7 separate regions of the Homo sapiens genome follow, and all the other regions are linked to region 5. Evidence: fine-mapped expression QTL. A gene starts in region 5. Each other region holds a variant in brackets. All regions are shown on one strand. Distances are between the middles of the regions. Region 1 overlaps RTKN2 (rhotekin 2). Region 2 has its middle 61 kb from the start of ZNF365. Region 3 overlaps RTKN2 (rhotekin 2). Region 4 has its middle 39 kb from the start of RTKN2. Region 5 holds the start of RTKN2 (rhotekin 2). Region 6 has its middle 110 kb from the start of LINC02621. Region 7 overlaps RTKN2 (rhotekin 2).

Evidence for each region. PIP is the estimated chance that this variant, and not a neighbour inherited with it, causes the effect.
Region 1: its variant is fine-mapped to the expression of RTKN2 in whole blood (INTERVAL, PIP above 0.99).
Region 2: its variant is fine-mapped to the expression of RTKN2 in sun-exposed skin (GTEx, PIP 0.97). The same link has a PIP of 0.9 or more in unexposed skin.
Region 3: its variant is fine-mapped to the expression of RTKN2 in whole blood (INTERVAL, PIP 0.98).
Region 4: its variant is fine-mapped to the expression of RTKN2 in lung (TOPMed, PIP above 0.99).
Region 6: its variant is fine-mapped to the expression of RTKN2 in whole blood (INTERVAL, PIP above 0.99).
Region 7: its variant is fine-mapped to the expression of RTKN2 in whole blood (TOPMed, PIP above 0.99).

What each region holds. Positions count from the first base shown.
Region 1 is chr10:62,192,841-62,197,139 of GRCh38, reverse strand. It overlaps RTKN2 (rhotekin 2), which reads left to right. Exons shown (of 12, transcript NM_145307.4): 12 at 1-4,054. Among named protein-coding and RNA genes, the nearest start is that of LINC02621, 64 kb to the left of the region's middle. The variant A/G (reference allele first, on the strand shown) is at 1,874.
Region 2 is chr10:62,433,700-62,437,968 of GRCh38, reverse strand. It overlaps a transcript of ZNF365 not described here. Among named protein-coding and RNA genes, the nearest start is that of ZNF365, 61 kb to the right of the region's middle. The variant C/T (reference allele first, on the strand shown) is at 1,855.
Region 3 is chr10:62,224,923-62,229,202 of GRCh38, reverse strand. The region is part of intron 6 of RTKN2 (rhotekin 2); the gene reads left to right. Among named protein-coding and RNA genes, the nearest start is that of LINC02621, 32 kb to the left of the region's middle. The variant A/G (reference allele first, on the strand shown) is at 1,513.
Region 4 is chr10:62,305,802-62,310,106 of GRCh38, reverse strand. No RefSeq gene overlaps it. Among named protein-coding and RNA genes, the nearest start is that of RTKN2, 39 kb to the right of the region's middle. The variant G/A (reference allele first, on the strand shown) is at 2,358.
Region 5 is chr10:62,267,066-62,271,337 of GRCh38, reverse strand. It overlaps RTKN2 (rhotekin 2), which reads left to right and starts at 2,494. Exons shown (of 12, transcript NM_145307.4): 1 at 2,494-2,787. The coding sequence starts at 2,728. The region is part of intron 1 of LINC02621 (long intergenic non-protein coding RNA 2621); the gene reads right to left. RefSeq lists a silencer at 2,413-2,742.
Region 6 is chr10:62,145,835-62,150,139 of GRCh38, reverse strand. No RefSeq gene overlaps it. Among named protein-coding and RNA genes, the nearest start is that of LINC02621, 110 kb to the left of the region's middle. The variant C/G (reference allele first, on the strand shown) is at 2,218.
Region 7 is chr10:62,207,454-62,211,758 of GRCh38, reverse strand. The region is part of intron 9 of RTKN2 (rhotekin 2); the gene reads left to right. Among named protein-coding and RNA genes, the nearest start is that of LINC02621, 50 kb to the left of the region's middle. The variant G/A (reference allele first, on the strand shown) is at 2,207.

The sequences.
Region 1 (4,299 bases), 74 kb after region 5:
AGTGAGTAGCTGATCAACACCTTAAAATTCATTTAATACTTATTTAAAAAGAAGATGAGAGATTCAAAAATATCAGAAAAGTTGGCCATGGTAAATAATTTTCAGAATTCTTTTTTAAAATTTTAATTAGATTTCCTTTTCCTAGTAAGAGTTGATGTCTGCTAGTGGTATTTTTCATTAAATGTCATATTCTTACAACAGTGACATTGGAATCATTTCCATAGGAGGTAATTTCCATAGCAACTAATCATAGTGACCCAAACAGGATTATAAAGTCAAGTGAGGAATAAATAGCAGAAAAATACCTTAAAGGAACAAAAAATCCATTTTTTATAATAATGCTTTTTGTAAACAAGAGCAGAACAGTTTTAAAAATCTAATTAGAATTTCCAAATAAAACAGTTTCCATAAGGTGTCAGCAACAGCACTAAAAATCTCAAATCACACTGAACCCTAAATGTCATTGCAAGAAATAAAAATTTAAGAATTAAATTGCTGCCCTGTGTATAATCTCTTGAGATCTTTTTAAAGCTAGCAAGAACTCTATTTGGATCAGAACTACATTATTACAAAACAAAATGAACACTTGACCAAAAAACCACATTAATTTAAATGGAGCCTTTCATTATTTTCAGATAGCGGGGTCTTTTCCATTTATAGAGAATGATGTAACTGCCAGGACACTTTTGTGTTTGCCCAGGACTCCTAGTAAGAATTGAATCTTGAGGGAGTAATGATAACAAAAGGTTTCTTGTGACTGGTAACATCAGGACAGACAGAGTTTTTGGTGAGAAGAAAGTACTATATGCCTGCTTGATAGCATGTAGAGATCATCACATGTATGGAAACCTTAAAAAGTAAACTTATTTTTTCTAACTAGAAGGCTCTCATAAGTTTCTGTTATGATTGCCATTTCAATAAATGACATTAAAAATCTAAAGGATATTATTGTTTGAATTTTTGGGTTATTTTTTAAAACTTCATTGCTGTTTTTGACAGCATTTGTGACTGTCATTGCCACTAAATTATTGAGCTAGAAGATGCTGCAGGGAAAATTGTTTTGAAGCTGGCATCTAAGCATTCTTTTTTTTTTCCTAGTTGATGCCTTCCTTTATTACAAATCAGTATTAAAACTTCCAGATTATATTCTTGTCATTTTTCCTCATGCAGATAACAGCAGGAAGGACTTAAGGTGTATAAGAAAAAGAAAGTATTCATACAGAAATTACCTAGCAGTTGTGCCCTCAGAGTAGAACTTTGAAACAGGACTGAAGCCCTTTTTACCTAGAACCATTTAAAAGCCTGAGCAAGGACCACCACCCCCTCCCCACCAAATTATTCGGTCTCTTTCTGGGGGGCCCAGCTTACTGTATGTTACAAGTCTTTGAAATGGGTCTGGTGTCTTCAGCTCCTGAAATGCTAATTTACCCCTTACCTAAGGAGTGTAGTTATAATACAGAGTTGGTTTCCTTCCTTCCTTCCTTCCTTCCTTCCTTCCTTCCTTCCTTCCTTCCTTCCTTCCTTCCTTCCTTCATTCCCTCTGTCCGTCTCTCCTTCCCTCCTTCCCTCCTTCCTTCCTTTTTGTCTTTGTTTCTTTCTCTGGCCCCCTGTCCTCTCTCTCTGTCTCATCCCCTTTTCCCACTTTCCTTCTGTCTCTCCTTCCTCCCTTCCTTTACAGTTTAAAAAAAAAATCTAAAAATAGTTAAGCACTGTGTCAAAGAGTGTTTCAAAAGAATTGTTTGTTTTCTCATTTCTTAAACCAGAAGTTTATGACAAATAAATATGCCATGTAATATGAAAGCTGCTTCAGCTTTTTATGAGCTTTCACATTCCTTGTTTGTCCTTTTAATTTGTTTCTTGATATATGAAGACT[A/G]TAAACTTGAAACAAAGAGTTAGCTGTCAGCTCTTGATAATATAATTGGGGAAACAGAATAGATATTTTATGATATGATAATTCTGATGATCTAAAGATAATGTCTTAGACAATTACCTTTACATTTCAAGCTCTGGGATATAAATTACGTAGTCAGCATTAAGATAGTATTATTTTTAATTGCTACTAAGTGGTAACTTTTGTATTTTAATATCTTGCAAGGGCAAAGAAGGCATTTTTAAAATTCTAAATGCACACCTCCTAAGGTAAATAGTCTTTCAAAAATATCAGGCGTGCCAACTCTTGCTGAGTTTTGTTAAATCCTCCTTAACTGTCTGCAGTGCCCCCTGACTTCTTTTAAATGGATGTGAATATATGTGGAAAACTAAATCCATTTATTATAAATGCCTTATCTTTACCCTTTGGGATCTTACTAAATGCATTTTACCTGCTACTATTTATTAAAAATGGAAGCTGTCTTGAATTAGAGATACCTCACGTAAGGTAGGTTAAGCAGTCAAGTATTTCTTTAGGCTTATGTTCAGCACCTCAGCCCCCTACTGAGAAGTTAATTAATTCAGTCCAAAATGAAATTATAGGGCAGTTTGGTGCAATTTATGTTAAATGCCATTTGAATGTAATCACCTGTGTTACCACGAATGAGGCACAACTATACTACATGGACAGAGTACTGCATTGCACCATGAGCAAGAACTGCTCTGCAAGAAAAATATCTGTCCCTGTGGTCTGAATTTATCAAAACTCATTTTCTTGTTAAAGAGTGAATTATTGAATAGTAATTAAACTTTAACTGATGACCATTTATATTCTAGTAGCCATCTTCACTGTTAGTCTTAAATTATAATGTAAAGTTGACATTTTCCCCTTACATTTCAAAGGCATCACTATTTTTAAATGTTTACATATGTTTACATGTTTGTGTGCAACTGCTTCATTGCTATTAATAGTTAAATGAAATCTGCATATTCTGGATCATAGATGTTCTTAGTTAACTCTGGGAAAGATGTTACCTTTGGGTTTTTAAAAGACAAGTCATCATTTGAAAATATATTAGGGTGTGTTGATTTTCTGACATGCTTGTGTAATTGGCTTTGTTTATAATTTTTATTTTTTAATATGGGTCAGACTTTTGGATTAAAAAGTATTATATCATGGACATACATTTTTTAAAGTACCAAAGGTATTTGGTAAGCGAGCCCAAGTCATGTAATTGAAACTTCTGTACATTAAAAGAACTGATTCATGAAGACGTTTTCTAACTTTTTCTCTTTAAGTGCTCCTCTAGACTAGACTGATTGAAGTAGACAGTGTGGTGGAATCAGTTTAATCAGAAAAAGACATACCAAGTAGCTGGTGCTAATTATTATAAGACTAACATTCTGATAAGCCATGGTATAATTAACATTATTAAAATGTTTACATATAATCCTTCTTAAAGTATACTCTTTTAAAAATCCATTGACATAACCTTACTTTTAGTTTAGTGATCCAGAATTTCCCCAGAGCTTAAGCCACTGCAGTAAATTAGGTACGTAGGATATTCAGTCGCTACTAGCCACAAGGAGTCTCCTTATTTTAATGTACCTCCCTCAGTACTTTATTCCTGCAGAGCGCCTCAGAGTGGGGGAGAGAAATGAGCAATCCTGGCTCAGTTGGATTATTTCAGCATTTTATTTCTAAATCTGTAGTGTGATCAGAAATATTTAAAATTAAAAAAATACTTTACAGAGAGAGGCCTACTAATCAATGTGCTTAGAGAAACAAACTACCTTTACATTCAATTAACAACAAAAAAAGTTACAGAAATTTTAACAAACATTTTTCTTTATCTGAGTATGGGAGAAAATACTAATGCTGACACGTTTAATAATTAGAAAAGATCATTCCAGATCTTATGGAAAATTGTGTTTTAAATTCCAGCAGTTTGCTCTTGAGACATGGTAATCTCTTAATGTAACTACTAAAGGAGAGGTAGATTGAAAAGATCTTGTATATACATAATTATGTCAGATGGTTCAAGATATCAAAATAAATTGTTTTGTTGAAAATGAATACTTTTTGGTGTCTTGCTTAAAAATATTTTTATATTTTGTTTATCTACTCAAAATTATGAATGGATGCATTTTTGTAGAACTTAATCTTAATAAACATTTAACTGAATTAGTTGTAGCAATTTTATAATTTTATATTAACAGGGAGAATAGTAGTAAGAGGAATTATTCACTTACCTCAAATATTAAAATGTGTGTTTTATGTATATAAAATATAATACTATAGATATAACATACATACATACATACTCATACACATAGTGTGTTAGATTCTTCAGGTATTTTCAGTTAGTTTTAAAAAATTCTTTTAAAATATGCTTCCAATGGAGCAGAATAAAAATTTCAAATCCCCTT
Region 2 (4,269 bases), 170 kb before region 5:
TCACGACAGAAGAATGATGTTGGATGTAGAGCGTGTTCAGCAAATAAAACTCATCAAACCAAATCTCACCAGGCGACCAATAAAAGAAAGATTAATACCTACATAATCAAGCCTGTGGTTTGTCTTACTTTAAAGTATGTGGATAGATTATCAGCTGTCACCCCCTAGTGGTAGAGAATATAATTATCAGGGCTGCTTGTTTCTGGTCAAAGGAAGGAAAAGAAGCCAGGAGATTTACAGAAAAGTGCATTTGCTACCAATCTCACAACCTTTAAATTGCATATACTATTCACACACACACGTACGTATATGTGTGAATTTAGAAGGAAAAAGCTTTATGAGTTACACCTTACTCTGATGATCTGGCTGTTTGTTAACTGCCTGGAAAACATAACATGAGATGTAAATAACTTGCTAAAAACTCGCTTTAAACTTTGTCTGCTTCCGTCATTACAATTCCTTATGAAATCCCTTCCTGAGAAAGAATTAAAATAGCTATTTATTCTCAAAGCCTCTTAGAGAAGAATATTGATTTCCTATTTAAAATTTGACATTTACTCTATGACGTGCGTAGAATTTCCAGAAAGCAAGGAAACCATGACGAAGTTACCCTAAAGCTTGATATAGATCAACTTTTTTAGATAAATTTCAGAAAACTACATTTTTTAAAGACAAAAAAAGTTAAATTCAGCCAAACTGCTACTTACAAATCATTAGTCGCAAAACAGCCAGTTGCTTAACTGAATTCAACCACATACATTTCCCTGCCTCCACCCAATCCTATTTTCCAAAACACCCACAGACACATATATTTGTATCTATGGGTATAGATTGTGGAAGACTTTAAAATAAACCATCCAAAATGATCTCTGATTCTGAAATCACTGGAAACAGAGAATACATTTCTCATACATACATTTAAATGTGGTATTTGACTCTCCCTCTTAGCTAGAGAGAGTTTATGTGGAATTTATAAGAAAGTTTATAGTCAGAAGTCCATCTGCTTATAGGTCTTGTTTGAAATGCTTGGTGTGTGTGTGTGCTAGCCACATTTTTTGGAGCACTCGTTGTTTACGGTGCATTGAGCTAGGCATTTAACCCTCCTAACCAACTTATGATATAAACAGTACTATCATAACCATCTTACAGATGAGCCTGCTCAGGCATATTAAATTCCTGGCACAATGTTACCAGCTACAGGGCTAGATCTTACTAGATCCCAATTGGTTGTCCTTCCATCATTAGCTTTTTCAGTTAATTGGCTCTGCTCAACAAGAAGCAGGAACTTAGTAAGTGCAATGATGTTGGTCATGAAGGGTGCTGGCAAGATTCAAAAGGCTTCAGGAAATATTCATTTCTTAGTGAATAAAAATTTCTTGGTGAAAATCTTCCTGCCTTAATGAAATAATGAACCTAATTAACAACTAAGGTCTTGTAAAGCATCAAAATTATCCTTTTTAGCATTATATTTTTATGTGTTATTACAAATCTGGATATGTTCTATAATTTTATTGTGTAACTAAATCTCAATTGTTATTTATTTTTTTGCCAGTGGCTTTTTTTTCTCCTAAATATAAAGAATGATTCCCTGTACCCTCTTTTAACTTCCCCAAAATAATCACTTAGTTTAATTAAGGGTTCTAGTTACTTTAGTACCAGTTAACCAACTTTTTACCCTATTTAATTTATATGGCTGTTGGAACTTTCCTATTTGTCTAGAAGAAAATTCCCATGGCCTGGAAAATTGCTTGCTTGCCTGGTGGGATTGCCAGTTACACGCTAATTATAGTATCTTTTATAATACATTAGATGGTGGTGGCTCCTTTATATATATATAAGTGAAACTCACAAAGA[C/T]GTTCAGACCAGTGCATCAGTAAGGCTGAATAAGAAAGAAAAGTAACAGTCTTAAAGTATTACGGTATTACAAAAAAAACCAAATACCCATGAAGTAAAAATTTTGAAGAGTCTCAGGTGTGAAATCCTACATTCCAAGCATTAAGTTAAAAGGACAAAATACCACAGAACTGTCAGAATGGGTAGCCTTCTTTTGCACCAATGCTGAAATATCATTTTTTATACAACTAGTCTTTTGCTAGATATTTCAGATAATGACATCAAATTTGAGTAGGCTGTTTATCCACTTTGCCTATGGGGAAGAGACTGGTTTTTAAAAGAAATGAGTTTGTTTTCTTGTTATGGAAGAATTTAGGCATTGCCAGAAGTCTGGATGGAAATGTAGCTGTAAATATCCATGGTAAAAATAATATGCATGGTAGCTAAAAGAATGGATGAGAATTGGGATTGATTTTTCATTTCTGATGATCAAGCCATTATAGATCTCCCTTGATTGGGAACAAGCCATTTTTCCATAGTCTTTGTCAGATGATATTAAAAGTCTATGGTATCTTGCTATTATTGGCCGAGTGTTATCCTTTAATCTCCTGAAAATGGGCTACTAACATTCTGCAGCATTTAGGGTGGAGAGCCTTGCACTATTCCAGATCTCTAACCTTTTTCATCACTTAAACCAGAGCTAGTGTTGAATACAAAAGGACTCAGATAAATATATCTCAGGCATGTGTGAGGCAAAAAATGAAACCTTCTTCTTGGGAGTATTATTCAGAAGGTTAAGTTTATCAGAAAAAAATTTACCTCCAAACGCTAGACCTGGGTGCTGGTCTTGCCATTTCCTTCGTCAGTCCTTTATCCTCCCTGGACCTCAATTATTTCACCCACCAATGCAGAGACACATGCTCATCTGTGAGTGAAGAAGATCATGTCTAAATAGTCCTTCCCAAATCTCAGCAAGTCCTATAAACTAAGATCTTTCTTAGTCTGTCATTAGCCAGTCATTCTTTAAGTTGGTTTCTCTATTTAGTTTCCAAAATACCCCTTTCCACCCTCTGAAATGGTCTTATTTATTTGTCAGATTTTATTGTCTATCTCTGCTTCTGGAATTCAAGCTCCATGCATTCAGGAACCCATCTTGTTCATTGCTGTATCCAGAGGGTCTGAAACAGTGTCTGATGCATGGGAGGATTCAAGAAGTAATGTTGAAGACATGAATAAATAAGTTTCCTCAATAAATAATACTGAATACTAAAAGAAGAAATGTATGATTGATGAGTTTTCACTCTTCTGAATGAGGTTATTCTAATGTCCCTTGTTAGCAGATGACTTTGTGAGAAGAGATTAAAACAGCTTAAGGAGGCTGCCCAGAGCTTGCACTCTGCAATGACAACACTAATTTTGTTCTGATTTCCAGTATACTTCCTTGCTTAGGGGAGAAATGTCCTATTTCACTGTCCTTCTGAGGCAGGCTTTCCTACTTCAAGTGGAGCCGGTTCCGTGCAGTCTTCCAAGTAGGTAAAGTCATTGACTGCTTTCAGTGCTTTCCCTGCTAGTCTCAGTCCCACCGACATCTAATTATATTAATATGCCAGAGAGAAAATGCAAGAAGGCTCTTCATTCTAGGATGAATGAATTGTTCAGGCCCTTCCTAAGAGGAAGTATCAATTTAGAGCAGGGACAACACACAGTCCTTGAGCACCTGAGGTTAAGTATACCCACAAACGTTTGTAAGCATTGTGATAAAGTTGCACATTAGCCCCACCAAAACCTCTCCACCCATCAGTTGATTTGTTTTTCATTTGATTGTTGTTTCTCCAATTTACAGGGAGAAAAAAAAAATAAGGTTTGCTGTGTTGAAGCACCACTGAGCAATCTTAGACCCGAAGCATATCTTACTGATTATCTAATTCAATGTTTCCCAAACTTGTCTGAACAAAAAAATCACCCAAGGTGCTGGTTAAAATATCAATTCTCAGGCCTCACCCTGCTGATTCGGATTCCGACAGGTTTGGGTGAGGCCAAGTGCATTCAGATTTTTTTAACACGTGCCCCAGGTGATCCTTATGTTCAAGCAGGTTTAGGAAACACTAACACACACATTTTCATTTACTAGCAGAAGAAACTAAGTCTGAGAAAGCCCTGAAAGTACATCTGGGTCACACAGCTCACTAAGAATCTTCAGTTCCTGGACCTGGATTCTTTCCCTTGTACCAGCCTGCCTCCACTAAATCTCCATCCCACTAAAAAACTATAAAAATACACACAAGGAAACTAAGCACCCCCAAAACGCCTTAACTTCCTCTGTATTTCCAAATGAAAATGTTAGCTGACTTATTTCAATATTTCCTTGTTGTGAAAACATTTTTTTTAACTCCAATCATAATGTGTGTTTGGCCTGGATTGGGGTCCAGGATTTAA
Region 3 (4,280 bases), 42 kb after region 5:
TTACTGTTTTATCCTTTCCTAGCATCTCTCTTCTTTTGTCATACTTGCCTTGGAAAAACTCCAACCTTGGTTAACTCCTACTTTTAGTTCCTTTGCACTCGTACTCATGAGGAATAGATGAAGAAGCAAGAGAAAAACAGTTATACTTCCTGGTCTCACTTGAGATACATAATCCCTAACCTTAAGTGGGTTCCCAGTATGACCGAGCAATTCTACTGTTTCTATAGTCTTCTACTTTACCTCTCTTCAAGGTAAGTATTTCACATGTTCTCCTCTCTAACTGCCAATATCCTCTCTCTGCCCCTCATTCATAGCTGATAACTTTGTTTCATATGTCATTGGTATTACTGAAGTAATTGGAAGAGAAAAATATCCTCCATCCACCAAATCTGCCAGCCTACCCACATCTGCCTCAGTGTTTGCTGTTTCCTTTCTTGTGAACTACCTTCACCTCATCTAAGGCCTGTCTACTTGTGCGCTAGAGCCCACTTCTCAGTTACTCACAGTAGGCTCCTGCATGTTTCCTCCCCACCTATCCTACATCACCAACTTTAGTACGGCATCATTTCTGTATACTTATAAACATGCTGAAATACCTTCAATTTCATAACTATCCTTCATGGAAAATAATTTTTTATTTCATAACTATCCTTCATGGAAAATAATTTTTTATATTCCTATCTACTTCCTCTTCTGCCATTCTCTATTGAACCATTTCAGTTGGCTTACCTCATGTTACCTCCATCCCATCCTACAGAAACTAGTCTCGTCAAGGTCAACAGTGATCTAATGTTGCCACATTTGATTGTCAGTTATTGGAGTTCCTCTTCCTGGACCTTTTGGTATTAACACAATTGATCACTCTCCTTGAAATACTATTTTTATATGGCGTCTAGAATACCACTTTCTTGATTTTTCTTCCACCTCAGTAACCATTTATTCATTGCTTGTCTCCTTTGTTCATTGCTCTTCATTTAATGGAGTGCTTGTGTCCCAGTATTTGGTCCTTGGACTTCACCTAACTAACTTTCATTAAATTTCATGTATATACTGATAACTCCCAAATTTATATCTCCAATACCTATTTCTCTTCTAACTCCAGACTCATATATCCAGTTGCCTGGATGCATCTAGATACTGAAAACAATCTCAAATAATGCACCTAGATATCAAAAACAGTCTTAAACTTATTTGCCCCAAACTGAATTCTTACCTCCTTTATCTGTTTCTCAGTCAGCCTCATTTCAGTTCATAACAATTCCATTTTTCTAGTTGCTTGGACCAGAAGCCTTGGAGATGTCTTTAATTCTCTCCCTGCTTTCACATCCTGTCTTTGCACTGAAACTTAGAGAATATATCAGGAATCTCAACCATTTCTCACCACCCCACCACCACCGTTCTATTCCAGGCCTGCAACAGCTCTTGCCTGGTCAGTTGCAGTAGCCTTTTAGTTGGTGTCTTCATTTTTCACTCCTGGCCTCTGTAGTCTGTTCTCCACACAGCAGCCAGAGG[A/G]ATCATTTAATTTTGATACAAGTCAGATCATAGCACATGACTCTGCTCGGAACCTACCATTTGCTGCACATCTCACTCCAAATCCAGTGTTCCTTACCGTGCCCCACCAGGACTGTGGTATTGTCTGTCTGTCTGCCCCCTACTTACCTTTTGGACATCTCAAATCACTCTGCCTCCCTCACTATACTCCAGTCACAGTGACCTCCTTGTTTGTCAAACACACCTAGCATGTACTCACCTTAGCCTTTATATGTATTGTCCTCTGCCTGAAATACTCTTCCTTCTGTTCTTCTTGTGGCTCCTTTCTTCCTTTCAGGTCTTCACTCAAGTGTTACTTTTGCAGATAGGCCTTCTTCTCCTTTGGCCATCTGAAATAGCACTCTCCCCTGACCTTAATCCCTTCACCATGCTTTACTTAGCTTCATGGGCTTGATACAATTATATATTTTTCTATCTATTTTTCTTCCTGTATAAGAGAGGAAAAATAGATAAATATATAAATGTATGTTTACATATTTATACATTCTCCTCCCCTATTTCGTTGATTGTTGTCGTTTTAACACCTGGAACAGTGCCTGGCAAATGAAGGCACCCCACTTATTGTCGATAATCTTTTCTTGAAAATAACATATTCTGCCCTAAAGTGCTCACAGTGAGTCTACTTCCCATTATTTTAAGTGGGAAACGTTATAATGTGTTATCAATTTAAAACCCCCTTCTAGTTATTTTTTTGAGACAGTCTCATTCTGTCACTCAGGCTGGAGTGCAGTGGCACGATCTTGGCTCACTGCAGCCTCCGCCTCCCGGGTTCAAGCAATTCTCCTGCCTCACCCTCCCAAAGTTCTGGCATTATAGGCGTGAGCCACCATGCCCAGCCTACTTTGATTCTTTCTCCACAGTTTTCTTTAATACTTCAACTTTTTGGGGATTCATTATGTGAACAATAGGGAAAAATAAGAGCTTATTGTGAAAGGCACTGTAGAAACTTGTTCAGAATAAATGAATAATAGCAGAGAATGGCCACTTGTCCCTCTCTTAGTTCTAGCAGCAGTTAAGATTTGTTGATATATAGTGAACTTTTGAAAAGCCTAAGTGTGAGTCTGACATTATACCAATTCAGAATGTAACTCGAAAATGTACTCATGCATTGTTTTGTTTAAAATGTTATGTTGAAATTTGGAGACAGAAACATAAATTTTCCTATATAAACATTGACCAGAAACACTGGGTATAGAGAGTTATCTTTGGTCTGTAATGACTATATAGTAAAAGCCAAGAGGCATTCTCCAAGGGAGTAGTATTCTATGAAGTATGCTATTATTTATTGAAGTGCATGCATACATTGCATACTTACTAAGTGTATGCATATGTATTTTTGTAATAGAGACTTTATTAAGGATTTAGTAAGAAACAAAGGAGGTTTATGAAACATAACACCTAGCATAATTAATATAAATTCCCATCAGACATCACTGTCTTCTATATCTCTCTTTGTCTCTCTCTTTTAATATACTCGTTGATGTTTTGAGATTTTACTGATTTGGAAAAAAAATAAAATCAAGAAAATCATGAAAAAAATTAGGATTGCTAGCATAGAAAATACAGTTGTTGCCGGGCGCAGTGGCTCACACCTGTAATCCCAGCACTTTGGGAGGCCAAGGCAGGTGGATCATGAGGTCAGGAGATCGAGACCATTCCTGGCTAACACGGTGAAACCCCGTCTCTACTAAAAATACGAAAAATAAGCTGGGCATGGTGGCGGGCGCCTGTAGTCCCAGCTACTCGGGAGGCTGAGGGAGGAGAATGGCATGAACCCGGAAGGCGGAGCTTGCAGTGAGTCGAGATTGTGCCACTGCACTCCAGCCTGGGTGACAGAGTGAGACTCCGTCTCAAAAAAAAAAAAAAAGAAAAGAAAATACAGTTGTTACTGAACATAAATTCACTTTTTATCACCACGAAGTGCCAGGATATGAAATTCATCACGAGAAATTCTAGGTATTTTGGTAAGAGTGCTATTTTAACGTAAGTACCACAAAGGGAACTATAATGAAAAAAATGGAATGAGTGTAATGAAGTCATCCATGTTCTCACACTATAGATAAAACCCTCAAATCTCTGATGTAGATAACCAGAAGAAGGAGATTCATTCTGTGAAAAATAAAAAAAGTTGGATGCTAAAGTGGTAAGGACAGATTTGAATCAGTAATGTGCTATTACAATAAGAAGAGTCACACATGAATTGCACTCAACTTTGATTTGTGTAGAGACAACTGGTCATTTTAAAGGAAAGTGAGGAAACTGGGAGAGGTTGAGTGAGGCTCAGAGTTAGCTAAGTGAAAAGTTCCAGATAGTGGGAAGGGGGGATTGGTCCATGTGGAACCCACCTGGGTGCTCTAGCTGGTATTTATCAAAATTAGTCTCCTACCTTCTCACAGAGACTGAAAGACTGAAAGGCCCTGTTTTCAGCTCTTGGTTGGAACAAACAATAAATTATTTTGTCAGCCTCGAGTTTTCTCAAGCAGGCACTTTAAGAAGACATCTTAGGGATGCAGGTTAGAGCTGCTAGAAACAATGCTAGTGTTTGTTCAGGTCCTTAGAGGCCAAGGTTGAGGCCTAGTTGAGTAAAGGACTCAGAGGATCATGGCTAGAGTTTGGTCAAAAAGACAGCCTTTGTCCCTGGGAAATTAATATAAATCAGACCCTATCATTCCACTTTTTATCAACTTTCCTATTACACTTAGAATTAAATCCACTCCTCTTCCAGGGCT
Region 4 (4,305 bases), 39 kb before region 5:
AGCTAAAAGGAGAGAGGAGGAAGAGGTTGGAGTGTTTATTCCCCCAGCTCTTGTATTAGTCCATTTTCATGCTGCCGATAAAGACATGTCTGCGACTGCCTAATTTATAAAGAAAAAGAGGTTTAACGGATTCACAGTTCCACGTGGCTGGGGAGGCCTCACAATCATGGCAGAAGGCTAAAGGCACTTCTTACATGGCAGCAGCAAGAGAGAATGAGAACCAAGCAAAAGGGGTTTCCCCTAATAAAACCATTAGATCTCATGAGACTTACAAGAACAGTATGGGAGAAACTACCACGTGATTCAATTATCTCCTACTGGGTCCCTCCCACTGGGAGCTACCTGTGGGAATTATGGGAGCTACAGCTCAAGAGGAGATCTGGATGGGGATACAACCACACCATATCAGCTCCCCACTGCAGGGTTGCTGTAAACTGGCTTTGTCTGGCTTCCAGTCAGGCAGCTCGCTTCACACTATTCTCTGTCTCCAGGTTCTCACAACTGCCCCTTTTCTTCCGTCTGTGGGCCTCAGGTAGTCATTGTGGCCAGCTGTACTGAGCTTGAGTTTTCACTATATTCTATCCATGTCTTTTTTATAAAAAGTCCCTTTTCAAAACACTCTTAAATTAATTCATTGCAATGTGCCATCTGTTTCTTTCTGGGAACTGAAGAACTTCTTATGAAGTGTTTCTTTTTTGGCAGATACTGCTAGGTATACCATTTCATCAAATCTTTACAATCCTGTCTATAGTTTGCCTAGTAAGGCTGAAAAATAGAGAGGCTGAGTGAATCATAACCAAGGTGTTGACTAGGTTCTTTTATTTTCCTAAACTGGACACATATAGAGATAGGCTGGACCTTATACAAAACAATACAAGCAGGATTTATCATGGTGTACCCTTCCATCTTGCTCTCCATCCCAGCTTTTCTCTCTGTGTCTCTTGCTTGCAATATCCTGTTGCTACCCCTTGGAGTTCAAGGATCCCTGTTGTGGTGTCTCTGGTCTGTCATCCCAGCAGTGCTCCTTGCTGTGGTTATCTTCCCTGTGCTACAAGCTCTCAGAACACTGTCCTCCCTTCTCTTCAGTGATGCCAAGTTACCCAGATAATAATACTGAGCTCTGCAGCACTTGCTGATAATTATTCATTGTTACCTCTCCAAGGGTAGCAAGAACTCTAATTGACCAGTTACCTTAATTTAAACAAAGGACTTAACCTGTACTGGTAGTTTTAGAGACTGCTGTGGTGACTAAAGAGACATTTTGGTGGTTATATCGTCATTGACTGCAGACCCACTTGGTATAAGGTGGTCTTGTGCAAGACACAAGAAAAATAATTCATATTTAGTTCTACGAAAAATTCTATGGCAATTCTCCATCAAAGTATTCTGATTTGATTCCCAATATTGTTTTCCCTAATGTATCTTTTAAAATTCTTAGTTATATATTCCACACAAGGAGAAGAATTCTCCAGGAGATATGTGGAATTAGTAGAAGTAAAAAAAAAAATGACTTTCGGTGGTGGAACGAGACTCCTTGATACCGTTCATCTGTTTAGGAAAAGTCCAGCCAAGTCCATTTTATCGGTATCAAAGACAACATATAACTTAGCCTCCTAAACACTTTTAAATTATCTTTCCACATAATAGCACATTTTTTTAAAAGAGTAAGCTGTGTCCAAAAGTGTGTTCAATATATTTCTCCAGACAACAAACATTCTAGAATTTTAACTTATTTGTTTCTGGTATAACTGGAGGCAAGAACAAAAATTCAAATGATTCTAGTTGCATAACAAAGTCTACATACCAGGAACTGTAAGAGTCATTCCCAAAAGCAGCTTTAAACAATGCTTGAGTGAGTTAGCACTTTCTTACTAGAAAAGCCTTGTTTATATTGAAGGATACTGATGGCAAATAATTCTGCCAAAAACATTCTATAGCACAGGTGAAAGTCTTGCCTGAAGGATAGCACTCAAGAGACCCCTGGCATTTGGTTCAGCATGGTACATTTAATCATAATATAAAATTTGCAAGAAAGTGTGGACCCTTGCAATATTCTCTTCCTATGACAGTGGAGAGAATTCTATTACTCTTATCAATTTTTCTTGACTTACGCAGTAAGAGGCAGATTCTAAAGATTATAATAACTTTGATAGTTTTAAAACATGGCTGCAAATTCTGTGACATTCTTCCCATTGAGAGGTGTGGTCTCCATTCCTCCCTCTTGAACCTTGTCAAGCTTGTGAAATCTTAGGCCAGTAGAGTATGGCAGAAGGAATGCTAAGTGATTTCCAGAGCTGGGGCATAAAGGGCCATACAGCTTCTGCCCCATTTGCTGGAAAATTATTCTTGGAGACTTC[G/A]GCCTGAGTCTGTCATGCTGGAAAGAACTGGGGTAGGCACTCCTGTTGCCAGTCTCGACTGAGTCCAGGCTTCCAGTCATCCATCCATCCCTAATGATAGGGACAAGAGGCACGGAAATTCTGGGCAGAAGAGGATGGGTCCCCAGCGAGGGCCCTACCCTCAAGCCTGGAACCACAGCCCAAGGTAAGAACATACATCCCTGTTTTCCCACTCAAATGTTGACATTTCCAAAACCACCCATGGCTCACCCCACCCCTCATTGTGTGTCCATAAAAATCCTAGGCTCTGCCAGCAGAGAGAGAAGAGGAAAAACAGTTGGACATCAGAGACTATGTTTGAACGTTGGAGAGAAGCATTTGACTTCAGAGGGACAGCTTGACGGGGTAGCTTCAGAGAGGAGTCCAACCTAGACAACTGGACTCCAGGGGAAGATCACCTTCCTGCTCCATCACCTATTCAGCTCCCCTTCCCACTGAGAGCCACTTTCACCAGCAATAAAATCCCCCACCTTTACCATCTTCAACTCACTTATGTGAGCTAATTCCTCCTGAATGCTAGACAAGAACTTGGGTGCCAAGAGGGTGCATGCAAAAGGTGTCACACTGACCCTACACTGAGCTGCTAACACATAAGCCGTCTGCAGACAGCAATGGTAAAGGATTGCTGACTGTAACACTTCTTTTTGGGCTTAAGGGGGAGTGCCCCCCACTAGATGCTGCTGCAGGCCCCGCATGGAGTTGTGCTCCTGCTGGTGCCCAGAAGCAGTTGCCCCGGCTCCTGCACCCACATGCTCCTTCCCGCGAGGGGTTGAGCACAGTAGGTTCCAGTGAGTGAAGTTTGCCCCTGCTGTTGCTGAAGCAGCTAGCTAGCTCCAGTGCCGGCACTCTAGTTCCTGCCCGCGAAGCAGTCAGGGTAAATTTCCTGTTTCACTGCCAAGAATACAGACATGTGAGTGAAACTCACGTGGACAATCCTAACCAGCCCATTTTCCAGCTGAATACCTTCAAGCAAACAGAAAATTCCTCTAAGGAAACGCTTTGGAAATCCTGACCCACACAATCTTGAGGTGCTATTTCAACCACAAAAGTTTTAGGAAATTTGCTTTCTAGCAATAATCAGAACAATTACTTCCTAAGTTATATAGTCATTGATCAGTACACCACTATTAGGCAGGGTAGTTCTATCTGACAGACAAGAAATGACTTACAAAGTCACGGAGTAATGTAGGGTGTTTTAGTCCATTTTGTGCTGCTATAGCAGAATATCTGAGACTGAGTAATTCATAAAGAACAGAAACTTACTATCTCATATTTCTGGATACTGGGAAGTCCAAGAGGAAGATACCAGCAATTGGTCTGGTGAGGACTTTCTTGCTACATCTTCATATGGCAGAAGACAAAAGGCAAGAGAGAGTGAACCCACTCGTGAAGCCTTTTTAATAACAGTATTAATCCATTCATGAGGATGCAGCCCTCATAACGTAAACACTTCCTGGTAACCATTACCTCCTAACACTGCTGCATTGGAGATTAAGTTTCCAATATATAAATTTTGGGAACATATTCCAACCATAGCTCAGGGGTAGAGCCTGATTCCAACTATCATTGAGAACTGTGTGTTTTTTCTTCACTATGCCATCTTTTCTTGTTGGTCATAAAATTTTCAAACAAGCATCTTAAAATAACTAAGCCCATTGGCTTTCAAACTGTGTTCTCTGGAGCTTGAGAGTTCAAAAAAAGGTCACTGAAGACTCATGCTAGGAGAGGAAGCAGTGCAGGATAGTCAACAAAGAGTAGGAGGGTTTCTGATCTTGTTTGAAACCAAATGTGTTCTCCTTCTAATAGTTGTATAAAGATGCTGATATTCCACGTAAGATATCTTGTTAATATAATGCCCCCTTACTAAAACAAAAACAAACAGATAAAAATATTTTTGAAGTAGTATTCC
Region 5 (4,272 bases):
TTTAATTTATTCAGTTCAACCTAAACAGATTATCTACAAGATGAACAGATGAGTAAAAGAAAGCACCAAGAGAATTTTTAAGAGGACTTTTTTTTTATAAGAGAGGCTAGGAGGATATTCAAAATCACAAGTTATCTGTTCTGTGTCAAACCACATTTTTCAAAATAATGGATCTGTTGTGTAACAGAGAGCTGATTTTAAGTTCAGTGTTTTCCTTTAGCCTCTTAGTTTAAAACAAGAATACAGAAAATAAGAGAAGAAAAATATACTTTGGCATCTATTGGTATTATCTAGATTGGCTTCTGTAGTTTTTAATTTATTATAATACTATCTGCTATATTAGGGATAACTAATATACGTATATTTTTAATTAGTATTAAATATTGACCTTATAGTGAGAAGTAATATTGGTAGGACAGTAATTCCATCACTCATCCTCTAGCTGAAGCTACTACATCTGGGCAGTTCGGTGGATATCGACCTTCTGTAAGAGCCCAGGGATGATGGGTTAAGAGATGCCCAAATGTTCTCTCTCAGATATTTGAGATGGTAAAACGTAGTACTTCTCACTTTCTGGGAACTGTAAAATAAATAGATTGATAGAGAAATCCTCAAGCTAATGAAGCCACTGCATATGAACTCTTTAAATTTTGTAGTTTCCATGGATGAGTATATTTTATGTGCATTACATACACCAGAGAAAACTGGCTGATGAAATTAGCAGTAACAAGTAAGGACTTGAGGATAAATAAGGAAACATAAGTCCTACTCCAAGGTATTTTAATCATCATATAATAATTAAGTACTTAAGCAATTCCTGGGGACCTCTCCCGGTGTATAATAAAAACAGGACCACATCATAACTTCTTCTCCCAAGAGAAAGGTCTCTTGTAACAACTGTATTCTACAGATAATTACTAAATATGATCTTGCCTAATCTCTTTCTTCTAGTATCATAAATAAATGTATCTCCAGTTAAATATCTGGTTTTAACTCATCAAATACTCCTCTATCAGTGTCCAATTCTAAACTGGTTGACTCACCTCTGTTTTAATGAAGTGCTGGCTTCTACATGTATTTTGATCTGCAACTGAGAGCTGTATGTGTTGTAAGTACTATGTGTCTGATGATGGGCTCGCGGTGTGTTTTTCTTTTGAGTCAGGTACTACAGCTAGGCTCATGCAGCCTCATACTGAGTAGGAGATAATTATACCACAAAGTGGTAGCATAAGACAGAGATGTGCATTGGAGGAAAGGGCACATAATGATTCTGAAATTCAGACCTGTGTTTGTAGAAAACGAGGTGAGCTCCGTGTTGATAATTTTGAACACATATTTTATTGTTGTAAGGATATGGGTCATTCATAATGCAAGGGGACCATCATTCCCAACTGGGAAGCTTCTAGTATCACCTAGTCCAAAAGGTCTTAAAGAGGCATTTTACCTATTTGAGGAAGGGTATCCATTATATTTTTAAAGTACATTCTCAAACCAACTGCTTTTAAAAGGGTCTTGCAGTTAAAATGACCACATAATATCCACTACGGGATAAGTGCAAGATTGGTGCAACATTGGGACAACAGACCCAGACAGGGTCTGTCCCAGGCAAATGAAAAAACATGGGCACCTATTTATGGAGGAAAAATGCCCAAGGGTTTCTAGGCGATGAGGGCTGGAGGGTTGATTTGGTAGACTCTTCAAGAAGAGGCTTCCTCTTGCCTTTTCAAGGGGGAAATAAAGATAAACTAGGGACAATGAATTTTAAGGACTTTTCAAGGGTGTGATATCTTTGCTGCTTTCATTTTGATTTTTAAAAATCCCATGTTTCCCTTTATAATTAACAAAATCCATGAATTAAAATGGGTCTTTGTGCTAATCTTTAGGGCAGCAAGAAATGAGGCTCTTGAGAAATAGTACCCCATTTTGCTATCACCTTAGATGTTGGAGAGGGAAAGAGAGGGCGAGAGAGCTGAAAGAAATCCTTCGCAAGAAAACAAAGTAAGTGGACAGAGTAGTTGGCGGGGAACATCTGGGATTATAAACACTGGGGGCAAAGACAAGACCTTGTGAAATGCCTGACATAGTATCTCACGAACCTGATGAATAAAACCATGATATCTGGGTGACCCTGGTGACAACGCTGGGAAAGGTGAGAGGAAACAGAGAGCGCTGTGTTTGAGAGTAATGTTATTGGTTCTTTAGGAACGAGACCGTGGGCTCTTAGTGACGCTGTGGGTTCCTGAGTTGTCTGGGAGTACAGGGACTGCAGCCTCGAGTCTGTCCAGCTACGATCACTTTGGAAGGCCTTCGGTGGGATGCGGGCAGAAAGCTCCCAGTGCAAAGGGCGTGCCACGAAAACCACCAGCCAGAAACCTGAGCTGGGACAGGTGCGCTCCGCCGCCGAAGCTTTCCCCGCGGCCCCTCCCACTCCCGTCCCAGGCCCGCCCACATCCCTGTCCGGGACTTAAGTCCGGCACCGCCGCCCTCTCCCCCGCCCCGCCGCGCTAGAGCCTGGGGTCTCGGCAACTTCCGGCGGCGGGAGCTGCAGAGCGCAAGGCGCGCCCACTGCGCGTGCGCTTCGGCCCGGCTCCTCCTGCGCCCCCGGCCCCTGCGACTGGGACTTGGTACGGCCGGGCGGTTGGCGTCCTCTGCGGCTCCTGCCAGGGGCGGGCTTTTCAAATCTTCCCTTTGAAGGAGTGGCGACGGCCCGGACAGTTCGCGTTGGAGATGGAGGGGCCGAGCCTGAGGGGTCCTGCGCTCCGCCTGGCGGGGCTTCCCACCCAGCAGGTGAGTTGCGGGAGGGACCCTGCCGCGGAAGGTGAGGGAGCCGGGGTTCTGTTCCTCGCGCATTTGCTTTGTGGAGGAGTCGGGAAAGCCTCTCCCCCGCTCCTCTATTTCAGCGGTGGCCAGAAACAAAGGGAGGGATTAGGAGACTGCGCTCTTGGGGCTCTAAAGGGCCTGGACATCGGAACCCCCGAGTTTCTCAGGCAGCTGAGGTCCGGATTGGGAAGGCGGTGCCGGGGTCCAGGCGCGCGTTTGCGGGCGCACCTGTCCGCTGCCCTCCCCAGGCTTTGGACGCCTGTCTTTTTGCAGGTGTAGGTGATGCCGGGGAAATGGGAGCCCCTCGATTCCCAAGAAACCCAGCGAGGCCAGTGGACAGCTGGCTTATTACGGATTTAATGGGAAGCACAGTAATGGAGCGATGTCTACACACAACACAGAACTGGTTGGGGGGAGGGGGTTCGGAGCGGAGTAGAGGCAAACAGCAACCTCTGCACTTTAGAAAAAGTTGAAGGTTTGATACTGGGTTCTTTCTCAAATCATTTGAAAGGAAAGAGGGAGTACACGTGACATTGGATAGAAGTTTGATGTTTGCTTTTGAGCCATGTAAAATGCGTTAGAAACCTTTTTATTTTACTTTTTACTAAACCAACATTATTTCTTGGCAGCATCAGTTATTAAAATGTTACCACTTTTCACTCTTAACCATAACTTTAGGGTCTTAAAAGAAAACTCTGATGTCTTTAAGCTGGACCTTCACTTCTATTTTAATCTCTACCTTCTTTTACCTACTTCAGAAATAGGTTAAGCCATATGAAATTGCCAGTTTTGTAGGTCAAAATTGGTAGAATATTTGCAATTTCATTCATATGGAGGCACCTGATATCTTTGTTTAAAAATCTGGGATTTCCTTAGCAGACACAAAATTATTAGTTTTCAATAATACTGTGAAAAATAAAGCAAGACATTAAGATTCATTATGCAAAAGAAGTCCAGTGTCTTTATCAGTAATACTTATGCTGTTTTATGCCAGCATTTTCAAAAATTTCAAAGATTTTGATGTACTTTTTTTCAGTCCTGTCCTGTTATGTACTTTGGCTGTCCTGATTGCTAACAAAATCTTGATTTATAGTGAATTGCCATTCTATTGATGTTCTTGCACCTATCATATAGGTGTAGGTGTAGCTGTCCAGGTGTATTTATTGAGCTGCAGGCTGCAAGAATAGGAATGGTACAGAAGCGACAAGAGGATAAAATCATGAAGTTTAGTTGCATGGAATGAAAATAAATGTTTAAATATACATAAAGCCTGGGTTATTTACATGTGGGAAGATACAATACTTAATTTCTTAGGCAGGACAAAATCAAAATGATTGAAATGTGGAATTACTTCCTCAGTTTGGATTTGAAGAAAAAACACAAAATAGTAGTAGGTTGCAACCTAACAGGAATATTGAGAGTCAGATAATTTTATACTTGACTAACACTGAA
Region 6 (4,305 bases), 120 kb after region 5:
TTACAGGTGTGAGCCACCGTGACTGGTCTTTATATATATAATTTTATAGAGGAAAAGAATAACATAAAACTATGTTTGGTGTAATCCAAATTTTATAAATAAATACATGGTTGACAATAAACCTCTGACAGACACACACAGACTGACAAGGAATAGACCAAAATGATAGCAGTGCTTAACAACTCTGGATGGTAAAATTATGCCTGGTTTTTATTTTTATTTTTTATACTTCTCTACTTTTTGACAGTTAGTGTATTTTTTTTAGAATGGTATTTTAAAATGTCACTTTCCTGTTTGAGGGTGGGGAAGGTGGGAGAGTTGCCAGATAAAATACAATGATGCCCTGTTAAAACTGAGTTTCAGATAAACAGTTTTTTTTTAGTATAAGTATTCTCCCAATATCACATAGGACACATTTAAATTAAAAACTATTCATTGTTTATCTAAATTCAGATTAACTAGGTGTCCTGTCTTTTGTTTGTTTGTTTTTGTTTTTCTTTGAGACAGAGTCTTGCTCTGTCGGCCAGGCTGGAGTGCAGTGGCACGATCTCTGCTCACTGCAACCTCCGCCTGCTAGGCTCAAGCAATTCTCCTGCCTCAGCCTCCCAAGTAGCTGGGATTACAGGCGTGTGCCACCATGCCTGGCTAATTTTTGTATTTTTAGTAGAGATGGGGTTTCACCATGTTGACCAGGCTGGTCTGGAACTCCTGACCTCAGGTAATCCGCCCGCGTCAGCCTTCCAAAGTGCTGGGATTACAGGTGTGACCCACCGCACCCGGCCAGTGTCCTGTGTTTTTATTTGCTAAGTCTGGCAAACCGAGACAGAGGGAGAATTCGTCAGAATAAGCTGGGGAACTTTTCAAACCTGTCTTGTGTTCCCCACACCCAACCAGATTCTGATGTGTCTATCCACCCACCTGCCATCACTCAGACTTTGATATCTTCTCCCAGGGGTATCCTAGAAGCTGGGGGCTGAGGGTGGCATTGAAGTGGGGGCTGTGCAGTGAAGCACTCTGGGGTTGAGGAGGCGCCAAGAGTATTTCAGTCACATCTCTCCTGTTTTCCCTGGTAGGACTTAATGCATTTGACACTGCGAGAACAACTCTTTGGGAAGCTGCAGGACGCTCCTGACAATGTTCTGGTTGGTCTGTTTTCATAATTTTTGTCCCCAAGACCACTGGTGGCCTGTCACACTCTGGAAAGGCTATGGTGCAGAAATGGGCTAGCTGGCTGGTGAGGAAGCAGAGCTCTAGGCTGCTGGAGGCCTCTGGCCTTGAAGACCCAACTCTGGATCTCTAAATTTGCAACAGAGCCTGGGGTTAGACAGAGGGAGAGCTGTCTCCCCAGAGCACAAGTGTCTGGCAAAGTCAGCAGCCACTAAAGGCCAGGAAGCTGATTGGACTGTCCCAGCTTATGTAAAACTCTCTCCTCCAGCCTCACCACCTTGACCATGGCAGAATGCATTTAGGCCAGAGGACAAATGCGTCCAGAGAGAACAATCTTCTCTCAGGAAGGAAGTATCTAGAACCAATGGCCTGTGGCCGAGTACTGACTTGACACCCTTAGGGGGCTCTGAAGAATTGACAGCATTTTCCTTTTGGGGGACCATAGCGAAAGACCTGAAATAACCCCTCATGGCCACACCTCACAAAATAATACTGCAAGCGCAAATAGCTAAACATTCACCAGGATTTGTAAACATGGACTTCAAAAAGGTGATAATTAACAAGGTGTAGGGCAAGGGGTAATAGAGGAGAAACAGCAGGCTTTGAACAAAGCCCTGAATCCTCTAGGCCTCAATTTTATCACCTGCAAAATGGGTGGGTTAGACAAGGTGACATGAAAATTACCTTCTGATTTCAAAGTTCCAAAATGTTAATTTGGGGGATTAATTGTGGGGCGAGGGAGGCATGTTCAGTCTTTATAAAGCTGAATGATGACTCAGATAAACCTAGTGTCATTTACTAAACCTTGCTGTATGGGAGGATAGGAATTGCTATTTCTCAGGTATTTACTTGGTGCCAACCATTGCACATGTTTGATCTCATTTCTATGCTTCAGAACAACTCTTGGAGGTCACTATCATTATCTTCATTTTCTATCCAGGGAAATGGAGCCACAGAGAGGTTCAGTGATTTTCTTATAGCCACATAGCTCACAAGTGTAGAGCCAGGATTTGAATCAAGCTTGTCTTCTGCTGAACTTGAGGCCTCGCC[C/G]ACCACACCATGTAGACTTCCCGTAGCCACCTGTGTTGCTGACCTGAAACCCAAGTAACCTGTATTCTTGAGCTCTCACCAGCACCAGGTGAGGTACAGAGATGGGGACAAGGGGCAGCACACCCCTCTCTCACGAGGATTAATCTACAAACTGTGAATACGGAATAGCCTACAACCAGCAACTGTGTACTGGGGACAAATGCCAGAGGGTATCTTCAAAGGCCCCTGTGTTCCAGAATTCTCCTCATACTGATTGTCTGATCTCTGAAATGTCTTGAGCACCATCTAGTGCTTTTCATTACTTATCCTGACCTTCCCCCACCGTCTCTTACCAAGTGAAGAAAAGTAGAAACCATGCCTTTCGCCACTAACTGGTTTAATCATTTCCATGCATAGGCCTTGACTGGGCAAGACAGGGGACATATGGGTGTCAGTTTTACCTGAATAAAGGCACTAGGAGAAAAAAAAAAGGAGAGGTTGGGAAAGGAGGCATCAGAAAGTCTTTGACTTCAGAGTAAATACTCAAGCAAGTTTCCTGAATATGATGATCAGTCAAGTGAATTATTTGGTGACTGTGGACCTTGGCCATTTTCAAGCCTCTTAGGGATAATCACAAGAAAAATAATAAGTAAAAATATTGGAGCAACCAATAGAAAAGAGTTTTCTTGGGCAGAAATAGAGAATTTCATTTATTTGTATGAGTAGCTACCATTTCAACGGTGTTTGCCATTCCACTTGGAGGAAACAAATCCTTCTGGAGCACACTGAGGGACCCTCTTGGCTATGAAAATGTAAGACTAGATGGCATTCACTGCCGGCCGGGCGTGGTGGCTCATGCCTGTAATCCCAGCACTTTGGGAGGCTGAGGCAGGTGGATCACTTGAGGTTAGGAGTTCAAGACCAGCCTGGCCAACATGGTGAAACCCCATCTCTACTAAAAATACAAAAATTATCTGGGCATGGTGGCACATGCCTGTAATCCCAGCAACTCGGGAGGCTGAGGCAGGAGAATCACTTGAACCCAGGAGGCGGAGGTTGCAGTGAGCTGAGATAGCATCACTGCACTCCAGCCTGGACAACAGAGCGAGACTCCATCTCAAATACATACATACATACATCCATACAATAGAAGGCATTCACTGCCTTGACCTCATTAGATGGTTTCTTGAGTTGAGTTCCCCAAGAGCAGACCCCGAGATGAGGATCATGAGAAGCGATTGATTAGGGAAGTGCTTCCAAGGGAGTTCAGTGAGCAGGTGAAGAAAGCAGAACAAGGAAAGGAAAGAAACTGAACAAGGAGATGAAGTTGCTTCACCGCCATTCCCACAGAGAAACTTTGGAGCGCTAGTTACACCTCACAGTTGTCCAACCGGAGGTAAGGGAGCTAGCTGGGTTTTCTACGTTGGTGAAGGACCACATTTGCTGGGGGATGCTGGAAGTGAAGTCTCAGTCACTGACATATCTGAGCTTGAATATATGACAGTAGAAACCTCCATGCAAATGCAAGCAAAGTGGCTCCAGCTTCATGGGACACCACTGAAGACCCACAGGTGCCTTAACAATGTTACCTCTCTCTATACCCCTGGGCATATAGGACTAGTTTCTGAACAACCAGTGGGTAAATCAAATAGATCTAGTGTGGGAACCCTCCCATTTTTGAAGGCCTGATGAACTGAGGTGGTCCTGAGTGAGTCCTACTTACAAGAAAGGAAGGTCAAGTGAGAAGGAATTCACCATTAACTTAGGGGAATTGGAGTTTGAAGATGCGCCTATTAATTCATCTACCTAGCATGGTGGGTTCACTTTGGGACACTGGCTGAATGTATGAGGATGGATTATAACCTCAGGAGCCCAAGGTTGGAGCATCATAGACAAGCATGACACTAAGCTAACAAGGCCATCCTTCCTCAAAAATCTACTGCAGTCTGAACTGTGTGTGGCATTATGGAAGTAGTGGGCAAGGATGCATCTGGCTGGGAAGGCCATGTCTTTTCCATGGTGACATAGTCTAATGTAGTCATTGCAATAACAGAAACAACTAGGGATAAAAAGGGAAATCTGTTAGTGGACTGGTCAGATTTTGCAATT
Region 7 (4,305 bases), 60 kb after region 5:
AACTTGGGAGGTGGAGGTTGCAGTGAGCCGAGATTGTGCCACTGCACTCCAGCCTGGGTGACAGAGTGAGACTCCATCTCAAGAAAAAAGAATAGTGTTTCTCTTTTAGTTTTTAGTATATTTCTAATGGTCTCTAAGATCTTTAAGCTTAATAATGTTAAACATTAAATACAAATCAGAGTTTTTTGTCTTTTGATTGTCTTTCTTCTTTTCTCATGAAAATAATTTTCCTTAATGCTACTTAAAAATTATTTGAAAACATAAATTTCACAATTGCTAAGGTATATAAATAATAGTTCTGTTATTTAGATCACAGGATCTGTTCTCAAGCTATAATTCTTGTCCTTCTAAATGGCATTTCTTGTAAGGCTAAGTTAGTTCATTAATTTTCATAGGGAGCCATCTGTGGAAATAGTCACATTAAGGGAAGAAAAGCCTAAGAGCTATTCCCCTCCCATTGTCAATCCAAATTTGAAAGGGTGATTTACTTCAAAGTGATTGCTTCAAATTCAGAAAACTTCACAAGAATGTTCTTGAGCAAGACATTCTCAATAACAGGTACTTAACTGAATTTCCTACACATTATAGAAAGCATTTTGTTAACTAAAGCTTTATCCATTGTCAATATGGTGAGGGGTGTGACGGTTAAAAAAAAGTGTGAGTCTTTGAGATCAAGCCTTTTCTTGTTTTAAATATTATATACATCATTCATTTTAATAAAATCTGTACTAAACAAGTCAATAACACTATTTAGTGTAGTAGACTTTGGATAAATTGTTTTGAAAATACTTTTAACTATTATATTTATCATAGAACCTAGAAAGCAAAATTATTATGAAGCACATGGGATTTTAATCCAATTATATTAGTTTCCTTAATATCTAATCATATCAACTATTCAGATTTTTAAAAGTAAATATAGCAAAAATAATTTTTCAAACATTTTCCTGTAGGAGTTTACATCTGATTTAATTAATATAAATTTAAAATAATTATATTAAACTGATACTAATCATACCTCATGGTTGGTTTAACTTACAGCTATGCATTACATATTTCAAACATTCCTTGTCGTATACATGAAGATATCCTTTTTTGTCATTAGAGTATATATAAAGTCTAAAGCTTGTTTTTAGCACCAACATTTTGTCTTCATTGCTGATTAACAGGACTTCAGACGAAGCACTTTTCAAATAACTCATTTATCTTTACAGCATGTTTGTAAGGAAGATGTGAGATATCTGCATTACAGCCAAGAAAGAGGCATTAATAATAGACTGACTTTGGTTTTTGTGTTTGTATTTTATTTTTTAATTATTTTCTTTGGAAAAAAATTCAAGGTAATTTATACATAGAATAGTATAAATGAACCCATGTGTACTCTCACACATTGCCCCCACATTAGATATATTTTGAAGCAAATCCTAGAGACCATATCATTTTACTTGTAAATATTCCAATTGTCACACTTAAGAAAATTTATGGTTTTATATATAAGTTGTCATATGTAGATATAATTATATGTAGTTAATATATCGTTAAAAATCCAGGCAGTCTTTAAGATCCCTAGTCTCAATTTTTGTAAGTTTTTGAGTTAGGATCCAAATAAGGGCCACATATTATGGTTGATTGATTAGGTCTTTTAAGTCTCTTTAGAAAAAGGAATGCTCATACATTGTTGGTGGGGGTGTAAATTAGTTCAGCCATTGTGAAAGACAGTGTGTTGATTCCTCAAAGACCTAAAGACAGATACCATTCGACCCAGCAATCCCATTACTGGGTATATACCCAAAAGAATATAAATCATTCTATTATAAAGACACATGCACACATATTTTCATTGCAGCACCATTCACAGTAGCAAAGACATGGAATCAACCTAAATGCCCATCAGTGGTGGGCTGGATCAAGAAAATGTGGTACACATACACCATGGAATGCTCTGCAGCCATAAAAATGAACTAGATCATGTCCTTTGCAAGGACATAGATGGAGCTGGAGGACATTATCCTTAGCAAACTAACACAGGAACAGAAAACCAAATACCACATTTTCTCACTTATAAGTGAGAGCTAAATGATGAGAACACATGGACATATAGAGGGTAACAACACACTCTGAGGCCTATCGGAGAGTGTGGAGGGTGGGAAGAGGGAGATCAGGAAAAATAACTAATAGTTACTAGGCTTAATACCTGGGTGATTAA[G/A]TAATCTTTACAGTAGACCCCCATGACACAAGTTTACCTATGTAACAAACCTGCACTTGTACCCCTGAACTTAAAAGTTTAACAATAATAATAATAATAATGAATATGTTGGCTTATGCTCACTCACACCTCTAACTCCCCACTTCAAACACACACACACACACACCATAGACAATTTATTTGCTGAAGAAATTGATCTTTTATCCTGCAGGGTTTTTCCATAGTCTGGATTTTTCTAGTTGCATACCTGGGTTGCCATTTTTCTTTTCTTCTTCTTTTTTTTTGAGATGGAGTTTCGCTCGTGTTGCCCAGGCTGGAGAGCAGTGGAGCAATCTCGGCTTATTGCAACCTCTGCCTCCCAAGTTTAAGCGATTCTCCTGCCTCAGCCTCCCGGGTAGCTGGGATTACAGGCATGCGCCACCACGCCCAGCTAATTTTGTATTTTTAGTAGAGATGGGTTTCTCCGCGTTGGTTAGGCTGGTCTCGAACTCCCGACCTCAAGTGATCCACCTGCCTCTTCCTCCCAAAGTGCTGGGATTACTGGCATGAGCCACCGCACCCAGCCTGCCTTTTTTCTTATATTTTTGGATCATATTCAGATTTGTTGGTTGGTTAGTAAGAATACATTTTAGGAAGGGTCATATACTTTCATCAAGAAGCATATCATATATCTAGGTCTTCCACTCATCTTAACAACCACTGATGAGCATTGTTTTAGATCCTTTATTTCATTAAGGATTACAAACTGGTAGTATTTTTACATTCGTTATAGCTGGAATGCCTCTACTTCATCAGCTATTTGGTTACCCTGAAGTACAATTCTTATAGGGAAGACAGGAAAAGTGCTTGGGGTTTTTTTTGTTTTTTTGTTTGTTTGTTTGCTTGTTTGTTTTTTCCCATTTATATGTCAGTTACCAAAACAATGAGATGGTTTCCTACCATCTTTCACAGGTGACCAATGAGTTCATTTTTAAATATCGTTTTGAATTTTTGGATTTAAATACATGTCATGTGTCTGTCCATTGCCATTGCTATTCTAGTCAATGTTCTAATCAATGTCCAATGTTTGACTAGTAGAAGCCCCTTCGAGTTGACTCTTGAATCCTTTTGACATAACCCTAGGAATCTTAGATTTCTGATAGGACAAGATGTTCCAGAATCATCTTATACATTTCCTGGCCCAGGCTGAGAGTCAGCCATTTATTTGAAAAGCTCTGATGTTTTTAGTAAAGAGTATTTAGAGACCATAATCTGGGTGCATTTTTTATGGTCGTATAGTCAAAAGTAACATATATAATTTATAAATCTAGTCCTGATCTAGTAATTTTCCACGTATATGGAAATGAAGAGGAGGAAGTACAGTTTTAATTCAAAATAATAATTTTTAAAAACCTAAATGAAACTTTCCTGTGACTTTAGAGTTTATATTTTATTACAAAATTGACTTCCCAGTTTATGTTTTTATTGACTTCACTTGGCATTCTCTAGGTAACAACACCATCTCATGGAGTGAAAAATTGCAGACTGACGAAAAGCAAATCCAGCTACAGATTAAAATTACACAGTGAATAATCTCAAATCTATTTACAAATCAAGAAAAGTTGACTATAAAACCTCCTAGGTAATTGAAGTTTTGAGATTAGCAAAAACAATACAGGAAACGCTGGGCTTAATAGAATAATTCTCACAGAACATGTTTCCTCATAAAGAATTGGATTGGAGATTATTTCTAGGATCTGGGTCTATCAATACAAAACTTTTTAATCATTATTTGAGTTGTTCTTTTCCTGTTTCATTTGTTTATTCTTTAAATATTTTTTAGCCATTTACTGAGTACTAGGCAATATTTTAGGTGGCAGAAATATGGGGGGGAGGCAGGGAATTACCAAGTTCCTTGTTTTCATACCCTAAGAGGAGTCACTTATATAAACACATAAGCCCATAAATAACAGTCCTAAAATTCACCTTAGTGTTTTCTAATCACTTCCTTTTTTGAGAATTGAAGACGTGAGAACTATTGTTGATATTTTTCCACAGTGAAAAAACAGCTTGCATGAACTTTCTGACACTCTAAGAAACTTTACTTGTATTAATCACTT